Linked DNA regions of Homo sapiens: region 2 is linked to region 1. Evidence: fine-mapped QTL for protein levels in blood plasma. Region 1 holds a variant in brackets. A gene starts in the other region. All regions are shown on their forward strands.

Region 1 (8,339 bases):
CGGGCGCCTGTAATCCCAGCTACTTGGGAGGCTGAGGCAGGAGAATCACTTGAACACGGGAGGTGGAGGTTGCAGTGAGCTGAGATCTTGCCACTGTACTCCAGCTTGTGTGACAAGAGTGAAACTCAGTCTCAATAGATAAATAAATAAAATAAAATAAAATAATATACTTCATACTCTCCTAACAAACACAGCTTCTCGCCCATTTTTGTCACCCCAAGGGAGGGGAGCGGCATCTGATCAAAACACCCCTTTATGGTTCTTCTGCACCTAAAAATCTTTGCCAAACTATTTGGAATTGGAGGGGAAAAAAGAAAAATAAACATAAGCTTAAAAAAAAAAGAGGACGGGCGATAAGGAGATAATGGATTCTGTGTGATCTCTTGCAGACAGATTTTATAAGTGCAAAGTATCTCGAGGCCCAAAGTCCTAAGACCCGAAATGATCTGAACACAACCCGCTTGTGACATAATGGCAAGGATGCTTCAGAAATTAAAGGGCTATGGAGCAGACAATAGCAATTGAAAGCTACACAGCTATAAAACACAGCCAGCACTTAGCTCTTTCAGCCACTGCCAATAGTGAATAACAGATCAGAACTGATACATTTAGAAATACTCATAAAACCTACTACGGAAGAAAACAAAAATAATGCCTGTACATTGCCAAAATAAGGAAGATTACGGTTCTGGTAAGAATAAATGACCAAATCATTACCTACACGTAAGAAATGCAAAAGACTTGTATATGACAGTCATAAAATGTAAAATGTGGTACAAGGTGCCATCACTGAGCCGTACCCCACATCCTGGACGTTACAATATCATATTTGATAGTAATAACTAACTCACGTGAAATGAGTATTGCTATGCAAAACTTTCTTTTGCATTTCTTCATTTGTGTTCAAATTTGCAACCTTAACATGTTTATTGCCACTGATTTGCATTTCATTTCATAGGTGAAAGTTTCCAAACATAAGCTGTGGACTTATTTCTTATACACCTCTTGACACCAGCATGAAACGTATGTTGCCAAAACTCAGTCCTCCTAGTACCCATTCAATTCACCATTCACATTACAAAGAGCTGCTCTGTTTTTCAAGTATACTTTCCAGATCCACTTATGCATCTAATCATCAGGCAGGTCATGAGCTTGGTGAGATTTTGTTTCTGTTGCACATACTTCGCACATCGTTTCAGATGTTAAAGACGGTTTCGCATTAAGTTCTCCTTCTTTCAAATCAAGAAGGGAGGCATTTCCTCCCACTTGTTGACTCAGAGCTGTAATCAGAGATTCTGGGATTAGCCATTTATTTCATTACACACACACACACACACACACACACACACACACACACACACACACACACACTCTTCAGCTTTCAAAAGAGGTCGGGGGAAGGGAGAAAACAATCATGACTTCAGTAGCCAAGGAGATTAACTTCCAACGTACCGACAGGGAAGAGGAGGGATGCACCATTTAAAAAAAAAAAAAAAAAAGTTTCAGCTGGAGAAAAATTTTGGAATATTTTAAATTAATGGGTAACAAAGGGTTGCCATGGAAACAGTTTTGCATACTTGACTGCAGGTGCTCCCTACAGTGAAGGGAGATTGGGATGATACAGCCACAAGCAAGGACACTGATGTGAACATTAAAGTGAGATTCCTAAGGCAATGTTAAGTCATCCGAGCCACGGACACTGTGGTTTTCGATACAAATGAACTCACTTATGCAACGAGGGTATGTGAGCTTTGCAACACCAGCTAACACTCACTTGCGTCCAGAAGCTGTTCCCCCTTTTACGATATTCTGTGGTATTGCCAAGGTTACAAAATGTAAACAGATACAAACACGAACCATAACAAGAACCAAAGTCAAATATATTCTCGTTTTTCCATCTTTGTCCTCTAAGCTGTGTATTTCTAGATTGTGGCTTTATTTTTTTAGAGTGAATATGCACTAGCTTTAATCAGAAAAATATACATGTAAGGGAATGAAAACTACCAAGGAGTATAGTTCCCCTGAGTGTCCTGTGTACTCTATGCCAGTTTCCAAGCCTACGTTCTAACTTGCATCTAATTTTGGTCACATAAGGGAAATACATGTGTGTTGATGCTTGCAGGAAGTCCTATTTAAAAAGAAACAAACAAATACTGAAACCTCCCAGGTTATGTGGGACAATATGATAAAATTATGTCAGTGAAGGTAACATCATTTCCTTCTCACAACGGATGATGTCTTAGGTACTTCTCAGGGAAGGGGTGGAGCAAGCCATAGCCACAATGCAGCTGGACTTGAATCACTTTCTAATTTTCCTGAGTACTTCACTAGATCACTTTTTGCTCCATTACTTAGGAGAGGAGATGGAGATATCCCTTTGGGAAAAAAAAAAAGTCCTACAAACACACACTTAGTGCTTGAAGGAGACTTAGTGAGGAATCCAAGCTCCACCTCCTTCAGATGAGGCCACTACAGATTGGCCAAGGTTAAATTACTGGCTCAAGGTCATTTCACTAAACATCGGTCATAATCTCTCTTCAGGGAAATTCCATCTCCCTGCTCCGCACCAAAAAAAAAAAAAAAAAAAAAATCCACTGACCTTTCCATTCTCCAAACCAACAGCGTGTCAAGTTCAAAGCTAATTAAAACCAAATTATAAAAATAACGTCAGTTGTGTGGTCTAAGAAGACGATGGGAAATCTAATGCAGAAAAGCAGAGTCCTTAACACCTTTCTGATGCTATATGCAGACTGCGTCTAGGTGCATTTCATGTATTATCTCATTTAAGTCATTCGAGAGTCCTATCAAAGCAAGTCATTCTATTAGCCCATTTTACAGATGATGAACAAACAGGAATTAAGTCCCAGGAGCTGGGATTCAAACCCAGGCAGCCTGACACCAGGCATCTTCTCCCTCCTTAAAACCCCAAGAGCTATCTGGGTTTCCTTTAAGACGCATGGACATCCTATCTTAAATTTTTCTAGTCTGCAGCACCCACTGAGCCCCACTCCACCTGCCACACCAACATGTGCCCGGCATCTCGTGGGCATCCAGACACCTCCTGAATGGTCAGATCCCATTAGATTTCCATGGCCTCTCCCGCAGTAGCTTGAGCGCTCTTAACCAGGTATGTTACTACCTCTAGTGAAATGTATGCCCTCGTCTGCAAAAACAGAAATAACCAATCTGAGCCCTGTCTTCAGAGACACAACAGATCATCATTACTACTCTCCCAGAGGAGTAGGAAGGTGGAGGGGAGGACAGCAGGGATTGAGAAGAGACCTCGAAGCTTCTACACAGTGGAGCCGAGAGAGGAGAGAACATTTCACCATTAGGTTTTAGTATTTTACCCTCACATTGCATTATGAACATCTCCAA[C/T]CAAGGAGATGAGTTGAAAAAAAAATCATACAGTAGACACTTAAGTATCCACCACCCAGCTGCTGAAATTAATGCTTTGCTGTCTATTTTACAGCCTTCTCTTTATCCTGCTATCAATGTGCCTTACATCTTTTATTCATTCCAAAGTAAACTGCAGAAGCAGTACACTCCACCCCTCCCCCTACTCCAGCATGCACAGCCTCAACTACAGTTTTCTTTTTGTTTATGGGTTTTTATTGTAGTTTTATTATTTTAATAGATCACGTGAGCAGACTTCCTGACTAGCAAAACACTAAAAAGACCCAAACTCCAGTGTGTTGTTATTATGAAATGTTTAGCTCACAACTTTCTTTTTTTTTTTTTTTTTTTTTTTGAGACAGAGTCTCGCTCTGTCGCCCAGGCTGTAGTGCAGTGTCGCGATCTCGGCTCACTGCAAGCTCTGCCTCCCGGGTTCATGCCATTCTCCCACCTCAGCCTCCCGAGTAGCTGGGACTGCAGGTGCCCTCCACCACGCCCAGCTAATTTTTTGTATTTTTAGTAGAGATGGGGTTTCACCGTGTTAGCCAGGATGGCCTCCATCTCCTGACCTGGTGATCCACCTATCTCAGCCTCCCAAAGTGCTAGGATTACAGAGGTTAGCCACCACGCCCGGCCACAGCTTTCTTTTAAAAGTTAGAGTAGGCTAGGCGTGATGGCTCAGCCTGTAATTCCAATACTTTAGGAGGCTGAGGCAGGAGGATCACTTGAGGTCAGGAGTTCGAGACCAGCCTGGCCAACATGGTAAAACCCCGTGTCTGTTAAAAATACAAAAAAAGTTAGCCGGGCCTGGTGGCGGGCGCCTGTAATCCCAGCTACTTGGGAGGCTGAGGCAGGAGAATCACTTGAACCCGGGAGGCGAAGCTTGCACTGAGCTGAGATCACACCATTGCATTCCTGCCTGGGTGACAAGGCGAGACTCTCTCAAAAAAATAAAACAGAGTAGTATCCACAAGTATGTGAGAAGAAGTTCCAGTTATTAAAATTATTTTAGTACCATAGCCACAGGTTCAGTAAGTACAAGAATGAATCTGCCTTTGTCCTCTGTCTAGTTCACCTTTCTATATGATTCTACCCTCTTTAAATCTTGCTCAAACTCCAGCTTGCCCCTCCCTCCCAGAGGTCTTTTTGGATCTAACCAGTTGGGTGTGGCTGCTCCCTCCCTTCACCTTCATAACTCTTGTGTCCGCATTTGACGGCTCTTACTGAATGATCAATTCCTCTTTGTATTACGTATCACAGTAATACAGTTTCTTAAACTGTGGATCATGACCCATTAGTGCAGTGGTTCTCAAACTGCAGCCGCACATCAGAATCCGACAGTAAATGAAACCACAACCTCTGGGGGTCAAGCCAGGCAGGCGTAGTTTTTTAAAGGCCCCTGGGCTAAGAGTCGCTGGATTACGAAATCAGGATCATGTCAGGGGATCATGAAATCCATGCTGTGAGTACAACCAGCATTTGTAAAACAAAACAGAATTGAATGTAATAGAAAGCATCAGAATGTAGCACCTGCAGTAAGGATAAAATCATTCTGCACAATTTCTGTTTTAGTCAAATATACAGAATATCTAGCTATATGTATGTGCTGGGTCACTCATGTAAAATGCATTTCTTTTTAGATTATCGTCAACAAAGTTTAAAAGTCACTGCCCTAAAGAAGCAAGGACGTTATCCTGCGCATAGCGGGTGCTCAAGGACGTGTGGCTTGTACATGGGACAGGAGGAGAGAAGCAGGTCAGAGCTTCTCTCACTGGGAATATGTTCTGCCACCAAAAATGTGGTTCTCAGGGCGGGGGACAATCAGATATGGGACTAAGTAAGCATCATTCAGACAAAGACGCTCGCCCAAGGATAAGGGAACGAAAGCAGGAGAGGAGCCTCTAGGGAAACTGAGGGAGGAGGCGACTCGGGGCTGCCCCTAATCTTTAAATTTCTATGTTTAAGATTCCGTCTTTTGGCCGGGTGCGGTAGCTCACACCTGTAATCCCAGCATTTTGGGAGGCAGAGGCAGGCGGATCGCCCGAGGTCAGGAGTTCGAGACCAGACTGGGCAACTTGGTGAAACCCCATCACTACTAAAAATACAAACATTAGCTGGGCATGGTGGCATGTGCCTGTAGTCCCAGCTACTCGGAAGGCTGAGAATCGCTTGAACTCGGGAGGGGGGGGTTGCAGTGAGCTGAGATCACGCCACTGCACTCCAGCCTGGGCGACAGAGTGACACTCTGTCTTAAAAAAAAAAAAAAAATCCATCTTTTGCCATCAAATCATCAGGCGACACTTGCTGATAGTCTACCTAATATCCCCAAGACCCTGGGAAGGCTACAAAGTTGGGTGAGAATAAACAGATCCCACCGGTAAGGATCTTACAACTAAGCAGAGAAGAAAGACCACTAAAAATATGGTCTATCATAAGAATGGGAAAGGAACAAGGCATTTTGATGAGAGTGCTGGGGAGAAAGAGCAGTGATTTTAGTTGGCAGAATTTGGGCGGACAGAGCCGAAACTCACGGGTGGCCAGCAGCACGTGGGAATTTTCAAAGTAATTTGACACCAGCTGCATGATCTTGCCAGGGCTGTGTCTCAGGGGTCAGTACAGGAACAGAGCTGTGTGTGAAGCTGATGGTAAATGACCTGGGCTGCAGAAGCTCTGCAATGACCTGGTCCACACAAGCCATCCACTTTACACCAACATATGCCTTAGGGCTCTACCTTATGAAATGCCAAGTGTGCGCATGAGGCTGTTGTACCTGTTCTAGCACAGGGCAGAAGCACGGCATGCTCTGCTGGTACCCTATGGTTCAATATTTATTGAGCTGGTGTCACACACTGTTCTAAGCATTAGGGACAGAGCTGTTAATGGGGCAACGTAGGTCTCTGCTGTCTTGGCAGACAACTAAATTAATGAACAGACAAGAAAAATAAATATAATCACTGTCAATGCAGAGAAGTTATCTTGAGTGAAGTGATGGTGTAGCTCCTTGAGACTGGGTTGTCAGGGAAAGCCTCTTTGACGACCAGATATTGAATGAGAGCTGAATGTCAAGGTCAAGGAGGTACATACACTCAGTAGAACAGCAAGTGCAAAGGCCCTGTGGCAGGCGCCAGCTTAGCATGTTGAATGAACAGAGAAGGCTGCTGTGGCTGCAGTGTAGGGGGCAAAGGGGAGAGGGTTGTAAAATGAGGTCAGCATGGTGGGAGGAGTTCAGATCACAAAGGAGCTTGTAAGCCACAGTACAAAGGTGAGCTTTTATCTTAAGTGAGGTGGAAAGCCTTTGTGGGGTCTTTGCAAGAGAGTGATATGACCTGATTTTCCTCTTCGTAAAATCCCTGTATGGAGAGGGGATTGTAAAGGGCAAGAGTAGAGGCGGGGGAGAGTTGAAATACAGAGAGACGATGGGGGCTGGCCTGGGAGGGTGGTGGTGCAAATGTATTTTTGAAGGAAGCACCCACAGAACTTGCTGATGGTTTGGCTGTAGGGGAGCAAAAGACAAGGAGCCCCACAGATAGTTCCCAGCTTTTTGGGTTAAGCAAATGATATGCTGGAGGTGGCCCTAACCGAGATGGGGGAGCCCATAAGCATTTGGGGGTTCTGGTCACAGAGTCCTTTCTGCACCATGCTAAGCCTGCGGAGTTCATTCTCAGACATTCGAATGCAAATGCCAGGTGGGGAGCTGGATACAGGAAGAGGCCTAGGCTAGGGACAGATTCAGATGTCATCAGAAAGTAGATGGGGTTTAAAACCACTGGACTGAATGAGATACTTAGGGAGAGTTACAGACAGAAAAAAGAAGGGGCTCTGGGACAAGCCTGGGGGCATAATAACACTCATCGTGAAGTCACAGAAGAGAAGCCAACAGAGATAGACAAAGGGCAAGAGTGGCAAAGGCGGCTGAAAGGTCCGGCGAATTAGGACACAGCCGACAGAGTCAGCAACACAGAAACCACTGGCGACCTGTCCTACTAGTGGTGAAAAGTGTCACTTCTGGATCCAGCAACTGGGAGGGGACATGGTGAGTCAACTCCCAGAGTGGGCATGATTCAGAGTGAGGGGTTGCTGGGCAATGCGGCCTTGGGCCTTGGGTGCCAGCCCCCATGGAGGACCAGGTGACTTCCATGAGTACAGGCTGCCAGCTTCAGGGCCACCGCCATGCTACACCCCGCAGCTGCTCCCACGCCACCTGCAGAAGGCAGTACCTTTCCATCCTCTCTGTTCCACTTCTACCACTGCAGAGGGAAGGAAGGAAAACACCATCTCCTCTCACTTCCTGACCTTCCTCCTCTGCCTCCAAGAGCCTTTTTTTGGTTTGTTTGTCCTATGCACGACTTTTTCAGTTTTCCAACAATCACTGGTGTCCTATACTTCTTAACCCTCCACTTGTAAAACAACACCTTTCAGACACTCCTCAGCTACTTTTCTTGCAAAGAAACTTGCTGTCAGTAAAGACAAGAGAGTAAATGGAGAGAAACGGATAACCACCTGCTGATGTCTACTTGTGCTGCATTCTTGAGAAACTCACAAAACTGAAGGCAATCCAGGTCCTCAAGAGGTTTACGAACCAGTTGGTGAAACCACCTAGCACATGACGCAGAGACCAGCGTGGTGCCAAACAGTGTGACACCCGTGTGGGGCAGAGATGCCGTGTGTGGGTACAGCAGCTGGAGAGACAGTTCTGGAAAACCAGGGATATGTCACTAGAGCATAAAAGATGGACAGGAAATATGCTCTTCCTTAAAGTCTGATTAAAAAATAAAAGATACTTTCCAACAGGGCCCCGTGCCCATCTCAGCAACGCAGGGCGTGTGTAACCAAATCACACAGAAATGAGCACTTAAAATGACATCTGTTGGATTAATTAGCTGTGTAATTAGTCTCCCCTCAGCGGAGCTGGGCTTTGTGGCTGTTGTCTGAAATCTCCCCAG
Region 2 (8,339 bases), not on the chromosome of region 1:
CTGTTTTAAAATGTAGATTCTATTCTTCTTGTGAACAGATCAGGAGTTGACTGCTGTTGAAAAGAGATTTTAGTGTGCTCAGATCCCAATACAAGGGGCCATGACACACCATGGGGCTGGAGGCACACGGGAAGCACCAGGGTTATTCAAGAGACAGATGGAGTGGAGGAAAATGTGAGCAGGAGTCTTTATTGTGGTTTCTGAAGGAAGACAGGAGAGATGGGGTAAGCAGGTTTTAAATGGGCTAGTGTGAATAATTTTGGTGGGCTCTGGGATCTTGGGGCTGTCCCTAGTTGGTCATGGGGTGATTAAGGCATGGGAATAATGGCCCACAGTGCACAAGCCCAATAAAGGTCGTTGGGGCTTTGGGCTCTGGATTGGTTAATTTGCATATGAAAGGCATGCTCCTGGTGATATCTCTAGGAATTAGCTAGTCCTGGGAAGGGCAGTCCTTTCAAGGTCAGCAAGGCCCCAAGGGGTCAAAACGTTAAAAATACAGAATTAAAAGACATGATTAATACAGTGGCTCAAAACATAGGAAGCCCAGAAGTGAACAAGTCCAAGTATGTTTTCAATTCTGAGCATACCCCCAATCCACTTGTTGTCTTTCACAGCTTTCTATTTGCTTCTTCAACAGCACTAACCACTAGTGTTTTCTGTTTGTTTACATGTTTCTTGCCTGTGTATCTCACTACATTGTCAGCTCCAGGAAGGCAAGAAATTTGCTTGTCTGGTTTTCTGCACTAGTCCTAATTGCTGACACAGTGCCTGAGACACAATGGATACTCAATAAACATTTGTTGAACAAATGAGTGAAAACAATAGTGTTTGATGGTTATCTGTGTATGCATAATATGATTTGCATGTACACACACATACATACTACTATTCATATATGTATATGTATGTGGATATTTGTGGGTGCTTTTGAGTTGATGTTTTTCATGTACATTCCAGTCAAGACTGCATGGCTGGCTGACTACTAGATAGACCCAACAGAAATCTATTTGCCCAGGGGTCTCAGGAATCTCCTGGAAAGAACTTGCCCTCTAGGACCAGCAGAGAAGCCTGATACAGTACCAATCATTTCAGAGGTTAAAAGAGAGAAGCATTTCTGCATGTATAATGCTATATTTCACCTGAGGAGGCCTCGGTCCTATCCCTCATGGATTTATAACTTGGCTTTTATAAGAAGTCAGTTTAGAAACTGGAAAACCTATTTTTTATTGAAAGCGCTACAATATTTTAGGATGCTGTGTCAGTCAGAGTCCAGCCAAAAAGTTAAAACCATACCAAGTGACCACACAGAAAGAATTCAACATGTAGGGTAATTTACAAAGTGCTAGAAATGCAGTTAAAGCAACCAAGCAGAAGATGAATCAACTCTGAGATTAGAAAATGCAGAAAGTTGTTACTCCTTCTAGGTCAGGAAGGACAGTGATGAGAAGGTGGGGTCTAGGAGCTGGGGCCATGCAGTAAAAGCTGGAACAATGTTGGCCTGTGTGGCACAGGGGGAACCACAGATAAAGGACCTTTCCAAAAGGAGATGAGCCTTGGAGAGGGTGCAGCCACTACCCATGATAGCTCCTGAATTGGAGAGAGGGAGACATATCCCTTCTCCTTTTCTCTCTCTCTCCACTCTTTCACCTGTGCCTTCCCCTGGCTTAACTTAATCAGATGCAGTTGGCAAGGAAGCCTGGAAGCAAGGAAGCCTGGAAACCACATTTTAAAAAGTCAACTTTCTATAATACAGAGCCAGGAATGAAAGTGAAGAGAAAGGATTTAAAAGCAAGCAAACAAATTTGAGGGCAGCACTGGTTTAGTATTCCAAAAGAGACCATAATAAAAAACTAAAGGGCGTCATTGTGGCAGGCTGGATCTCCACAAGCAACCAAGTCTCCATAAGCCCTTTGCTGTAATGATGAATGTGTAAGTTAAACATTGAAGAACTAGAGAAACTGGTGCCTGAGTAGGAGACCTGGAATGCAGAAACAAACCCGTTAAGACCCTACCTGGGCTTTCTCATCCTCAAACCTGATTGAGTGATAAAAGCATTCATGCACATACAAACCATACCAGGACCCATGTAAAATTAAGAAACTTTCCAGCCCACAGACCACTAGTTAAAGATTAGATTTAGGCTAAGTAGAAATACTCCTGCATATAGGCATAGAGCTTGAAATTCATTTATATATACTAAAGGAAAAACTCATAACTTTTAGTTGGTCTGGTAAATTACTCCGACCTTCTCCCTGTGGCTGGTTACAAAAATAAACTCGCTTCTTTCCCAGTTCACCTGTATCTCATCATTGGACCACGAGAGCAAGCAGCTGGACCCTGTTCCTCCGGCAACGGCATCAATCTTACCACCAACCTTGGCTCTTTGAGGGGCTTGGTATATTAATATCACTGGCATCAGTGGGAATATGTGGGAGAAATGGAAGCAGTACTGGTAGAGAAAGAAGGAGAAGTGGCAGGATTGAGGTGCATGGCAGGCATTCATGGTGTCTTTCATGTAGTTTATAAAGTAGTTTATAAAGTAGCAGAAAGATAAAGAAATGACAGTTACAACATGGTAACATAAAAATTAGTAAAATGTGACATAAATTAGATATTAATTTTGGTTTGGCATAGCAGAATGCTCTGTCTGCATAATTTTATTAGATCTTCATTACAATACCACACCCTCAGATGAGGACAAATAAAGCCCCAACCTCTGGCCTTACATCTTAAGGTGTGTTTTCTCAAAATTTTCTGGGTTCCACTTTGGTGGTGGGAATGGCTGGAGCCAGCAGTACCACGTGGCCGGGGAGCCCTGAGCTGGTCCTGTGCCCATATGGACTCCGCTTTCTATTTCACCCCTTCATGGTTCTTTCTTACCCTCTTCCTTGCATGTCGGGCCCACTCGATGCCCCAAAGAACTCCAGGACTTCTGCTCACAAATGAAGTTGTCCTGAGGTCCTGTGGCTGAACCCTGGATCCAGAAAGACAGCCTTGGAAACAAATTACTACTCCTGTAGCCAGTACCTTACAATTACGTATTTTTGAATGATTTTATCGGATTTGATTGCCAAAGAATCTTGCAAAAACAATTTTTTCCCCAAGCTACACACCTTATGGTTGGTTGTGTTATTTATGTTCCCATTTTAGATGAGAGGACCAATATCCTAGATTAAAAATGTCAAATCCAAGATTACACAAACAGTGAAAATTGAATCCCAGGTTTTTCAAAAGACACTCTGATTTTAGATCTTAAGCCTATTATTCTATCCAAAGGCTCAGAGAAGACATGCTCTGAACATACTCAAAGTAACTGACACTGGAAAAGGTAACAGAGGTGTGAAAATCTTACCATAGTAGATGTGTGAGTGGGCTGGGGGCAGGTGAATTCCAGAGAAATGTGGCACTAAATGTCATGAAGCTGACTCTGTATTATACCAGAGTGGCCTCCAGATTGCTTTCACAACTGGGTAGTTCATCAGCTAATGTGATTCTCCAAACTTTAAATGATTAGAAAACTGGGGAAAAATGTAGAAAACCAGAGGAAAACACTCCTTCTAATCCAAATATAAATTCTTCACTTCTTTTCAATGTTCTTCCAGGAGAAGGATTCGTTGGGCTCTTTGCCTTCTGCTTTTATTTCTGTGCAAGGGTTTATGCAAGAGGTACTTGAGAATGCTGTACTGTAGAGCTTTGTTTCTCATGGGAACACACGGGGAAGTGGAAAACCCTCCAAATTGTTTGGTGAGAAAACATAACATTTATCCCTTTCTTTGGTGGGGTGAGTCAAGTGGTAGGGACTAGAATTCAGGTCCTCAATGGGCATATAAATATGTGTGTGCAAAAGCAGCCATCACACTTTGTATGGCAAGTGGAACCACTGGCTTGGTGGATTTTGCTAGATTTTTCTGATTTTTAAACTCCTGAAAAATATCCCAGATAACTGTCATGAAGCTGGTAACTATCTTCCTGCTGGTGACCATCAGCCTTTGTAGTTACTCTGGTAAGTAACTGGAATACATCTGGAATATGTGACATTTCTTTACTTTTCTGTTAATAAGAGCACAACTAGTAAGCCTTGCCTCACTGACAGTGGAATATGGTGGTAGGAATTGTATTTTTTTTTATTTTACTTTTAACTGACACATAATAATTGCACATATTTGCAGGGTTGGAAGAAGTTTTGGAATCACAGAAAATGGTGATGTTGGAAAGTATTTCAGATCCCCACCATCTAAGCTCTAGCCCAATATAAGTATTCTAATACATCCTACATAGGAAGTTAGCCAACTTCCACGGAGGGTCAACAAAGCACATTTCACTGCTGGATATTGGTCACCATTCGTTTTTCTTATTTTCCTCAATTTTGAGTTAAAATTTGACTTTATAATTTCTTTTGTGCTTTTGAACTATATGGAGTCATTCTTGCTATCATCTCCAGTTATCCAATTTGCTAGCTTGGTTCTCCTGAGATAGCTACATTCATCTGTTTATCCACTCAATGGATATTTATTGAATGGCTACAATTTGTTGGGCACTGGATAGGCATTGGAAGATTTAGACATGAAGCAGTCATAAATATTGTTCTTAAGGTGCTACTCTGGTAGGATAGATAGGGCTTCTGCCTAAGTTACTATAATTCTAGACTACTGTAAACGTACTGTGAGATATCCAGATAGAACTCTTTTAGTGTATTGGTGGGTGATTAGTTTAATTTTCAGGTAAGGGTATAGAAGCTGGCTTCTTGGAGGAGAATGGGAACTGATTTATTTTTTTGGAAGGAATCATTGTAACTATCAGGAAGACAGTGTGGGCACATGGGAAAAAGAGATTTCATGATAGCCACTGCTCATTGAGAGAACAGAAGGCTTTGAAGATCTTCTCCCAGGAAGCTGTAAACACATACAGAGAAGATATTTACCAAAATGTCTGAAATAAGAAGTATGGAGATTAATAATGAAAAATTGATTGCCGCCCACACCTACAATGGCAACTTTGGCTTTTGATGTTTATTGAATTTCTGAAGGAATTTGTAACTTCACCAGTTTTGGATATTTCACTGTTCTCTAATGTCCAGGGACAGGTATCTATGGGCAAAGTGGCAGCAGAAAGGAGGTGGGGAAAATAAATACCGCCCCCTCTGGGTGAGAATTTTGGAGGGACAATAGGTGATTGAAAATTTAAAAAAATATATACAGGCTCCATTTTAATAATTTGAATGGGGAAATAATAGGTTTCCAAAGGAAAATAAACTATGGCAGGTCTTAGCCAGTAGGAGGATGTGTGTTCTTACGTGTGTGCTCACATGCATGTGTGCATTTATATATCTGCACATGTTTTTGTAAAAAATACATCGTACATATTTTCCTCAATCTCTACTTTTTCCCACCATTCATCTTCTACGGGAAAGTTATCTTCCTAAAGCCAAAGATATAAAACGTAATTTTCCTATGTAAAAGCCTTGATAGCGCCCCACTGCCCTCAGGAAAAAAAAATCCAAACTCCTTTGTGTGACATCCAACACTTTAAAAAATCTGACCTCACTCAACTTTTGCAGCCTCACTCCCTTTATCTTCCATCCTTTGGTCATAGCCTATTGGAAATCTGCACTCCAGCCTTCTGGGCAGAAGGCTCACCATCCTGTGTATGCACTTTTATCCTAATGGTTCCGTGCCTTTATTGGTCATGTTTCTAAAATGCTTCTCCTCTTCTTTACCTTATGATCCTGACATTTGCCTCAAGACATAGCTCTAACAGCACTTCTGGAAAATTCCTGCAGCACTCTTTCATGTTAGAATTAGTCATCCCTTTCTTGTGTTTCCATGGAGCTTTGTCCATAATGTTAGCATAGCACATGCTACACTGTGGCATACACAGATCTTCTATCACCAACTGGACTGTGTGAAGTCTCTGAATGGGCATCCTTGTCTTATTTGTCTATGTATCTGCACAGACTAGATAGAGTTGGTGCTCAATTATGTTTGTAGCGTTGAGTTGAATTGGTTGGGAGCAGTTTCTTGGGCTGTGGTTGGGTCCATTCCTGTCTTTATGTGGAGATTCACTATAGCATCTCTCCTTTAGCCTCAAAGCTGTGAGCTGTGGAGACAGTCACATACAAAATACCATCGCCTTCAGACAATCACAATGATCTGTTGAATGCTTACGCTGCCAGGGTCAGTTGTAGGCATGGGTGCATTAGCGAAAAAACACACATTCCTTGTTCTCATGGAGCCTCCATTCTAATGAGAAAATAAAGACAATAAAAACAGCAAATGAAGAGTTGCTTTTTTTAGGTAATGGTAAGAAAAAATAAATGACGGAGAGTGACTATGGCCATTGCAGGCTTCTCCGAGGAGGTAATATTTGAAGAGAGACCAAATAATGTGAGAAAGAAAGGTAAGTAGCTAGCTAAGGAAAAAAAGTTCTAGGGAGATGGAACAGCAGGTGCAAAGGGCCAGAGGTAGAAGTTTTCAATGGAAGTAAGATGAGTGGATCTGGAATGGAGCTATTGATGGACACAGGGAAAGAAGATGAGGTCATAGTCTGGGCCCAGATGTGCCTGTCTCACCTGGTTTCTCTTTTTCCTGCAGCTACTGCCTTCCTCATCAACAAAGTGCCCCTTCCTGTTGACAAGTTGGCACCTTTACCTCTGGACAACATTCTTCCCTTTATGGATCCATTAAAGCTTCTTCTGAAAACTCTGGGCATTTCTGTTGAGCACCTTGTGGAGGGGCTAAGGAAGTGTGTAAATGAGCTGGGACCAGAGGCTTCTGAAGCTGTGAAGAAACTGCTGGTAACCACAGCTTGGGAGGCTAATCTGCCAAAGGGGAGGCATACTCACCCTGAATGTCTAGCTCCTCTTCTTGTCCCTTGTAAATGTGCATTTCCACTTTACTGATTATATTCATAGGAAGTTTGCACATCCTGGAATCTCAGGAAAAATACAATTTCTACATTTCTGGGAAGGGTTTTTGAATGATAGTGACATGTGTTATAGTTGTGACAATACCATTTACCACCTTCGTGATTTTGGATGAGACGTAATCACTCTGAGTTTTTGTTTCCCCATCAGTAAAATAGTGGCCAAACAGGACACTGGAAGTGAATATGTTTTGAAACATGCGAATTACATGTAAGCTGCTCTAAATTTTGTTGTCCTTCTACATTTCAGGAGGCGCTATCACACTTGGTGTGACATCAAGATAAAGAGCGGAGGTGGATGGGGATGGAAGATGATGCTCCTATCCTCCCTGCCTGAAACCTGTTCTACCAATTATAGATCAAATGCCCTAAAATGTAGTGACCCGTGAAAAGGACAAATAAAGCAATGAATACATTTTCAGTCGTCCTATTTTTATTTCTGGGGACTCTATTCAGAAGGACGTATCCAGATTAGTTTTCCCTTGGTTCATAAACTCGAGAGAGCCTGTTTTTATAAAGAAAACCTGGAATCTTAAGTAAGACATAATCATTCCTTCTCCTTTCCTTATCTCTAATTTAAACATCTCTATTTTTCCCAAATGTTTTATCTCACGGTGTTTTCAGACCCTTCACTTTCCTATCCCCCATCCTAAATAAATTTTTACATTTAAAAAATGAAAAAATAATTTTCAAAATATTGTCTGATAAGACTAGCATCTTACTAACTTCATTGGTTTGGCTTCTGTTTCACTAGAATGCTAGTTCTTAAGTTTGTAGTTAAGCTATGGCCACTCAATAGCTTTCACCAATCCTTCCACCAAGTTAGGCCTTTACTACATCATCCTTAGGCAAATGGGTGATGAACTATCTTTTCTTTCCTTTACTCTGTCATCTACAGTGATGACAGAATTATCTTTCCAAGGAATTATTCTGGTAATATCATGACGGCCTGTAGAGCAGATTTCAAGCTTCTGAGCATGGCATGCAAGGCTGTTCATGATCTGGCTTTTGGTTACACGTCTAGTCTTCTTATCTACATTCCTTTCTTCACATGCGCTCTACTCCAGCCACACTGAACAGATAACTAAATCCTTTTCCCTCTAACACTCTTACACCTTAATGAAAAATCAAGTTTCTTCCTACCTAGAATGTCTGCCACCATCGACCTTCAGACCTGGCCTGTGTCAGTCTTTGGACTGTTTGCTGTCAGGTCCATTTCCTCCACTTCCCCTGTTCTGCTCTGCTCTGCTCTGCTGTGTGTTGAGGCAGGACAGGAAACATGATACTGATTGCTGCAGCTTGCATTTCTCAGGTTCCCAAATCAGCTGACATTTGGGCTAGGTTCTGCCCCTGGGAGGCGCAGGCAGTAGATAGGAAGTAGGAAAAGAGGAAAACTATTGTATGACCCTTTCTGGCTC

Direction of the effects. Alleles are on the strand shown, and positions count from the first base shown. The strength of an association depends on the size of the effect and on how common the allele is.
In carriers of allele T in region 1, the plasma level of the protein whose gene starts at base 3,856 in region 2 tends to be lower than with C alone (weak association).

The links. A credible set is the group of variants that fine-mapping cannot tell apart. PIP is the posterior inclusion probability: the model's chance that the variant is causal. Protein levels are from antibody-based Olink assays in UK Biobank. Linkage for the fine-mapping came from a reference panel and not from the study's own genotypes, which makes the PIPs less certain.
Region 2: it holds the start of SCGB3A2, and the variant in region 1 is the best candidate, but not a certain one, in a credible set for the plasma level of the SCGB3A2 protein (UK Biobank, PIP 0.60).

The regions. Positions count from the first base shown.
Region 1 is chr16:72,930,086-72,938,424 of GRCh38, forward strand. The region is part of intron 3 of ZFHX3 (zinc finger homeobox 3); the gene reads right to left. Among named protein-coding and RNA genes, the nearest start is that of ZFHX3, 110 kb to the right of the region's middle. RefSeq lists an enhancer at 6,445-6,739. The variant C/T (reference allele first, on the strand shown) is at 3,379.
Region 2 is chr5:147,874,856-147,883,194 of GRCh38, forward strand. SCGB3A2 (secretoglobin family 3A member 2) reads left to right here and starts at 3,856. Exons shown (of 3, transcript NM_054023.5): 1 at 3,856-4,003; 2 at 6,591-6,793; 3 at 7,172-7,336. The coding sequence starts at 3,949. The coding sequence ends at 7,195. RefSeq lists enhancers at 1-22, 23-688.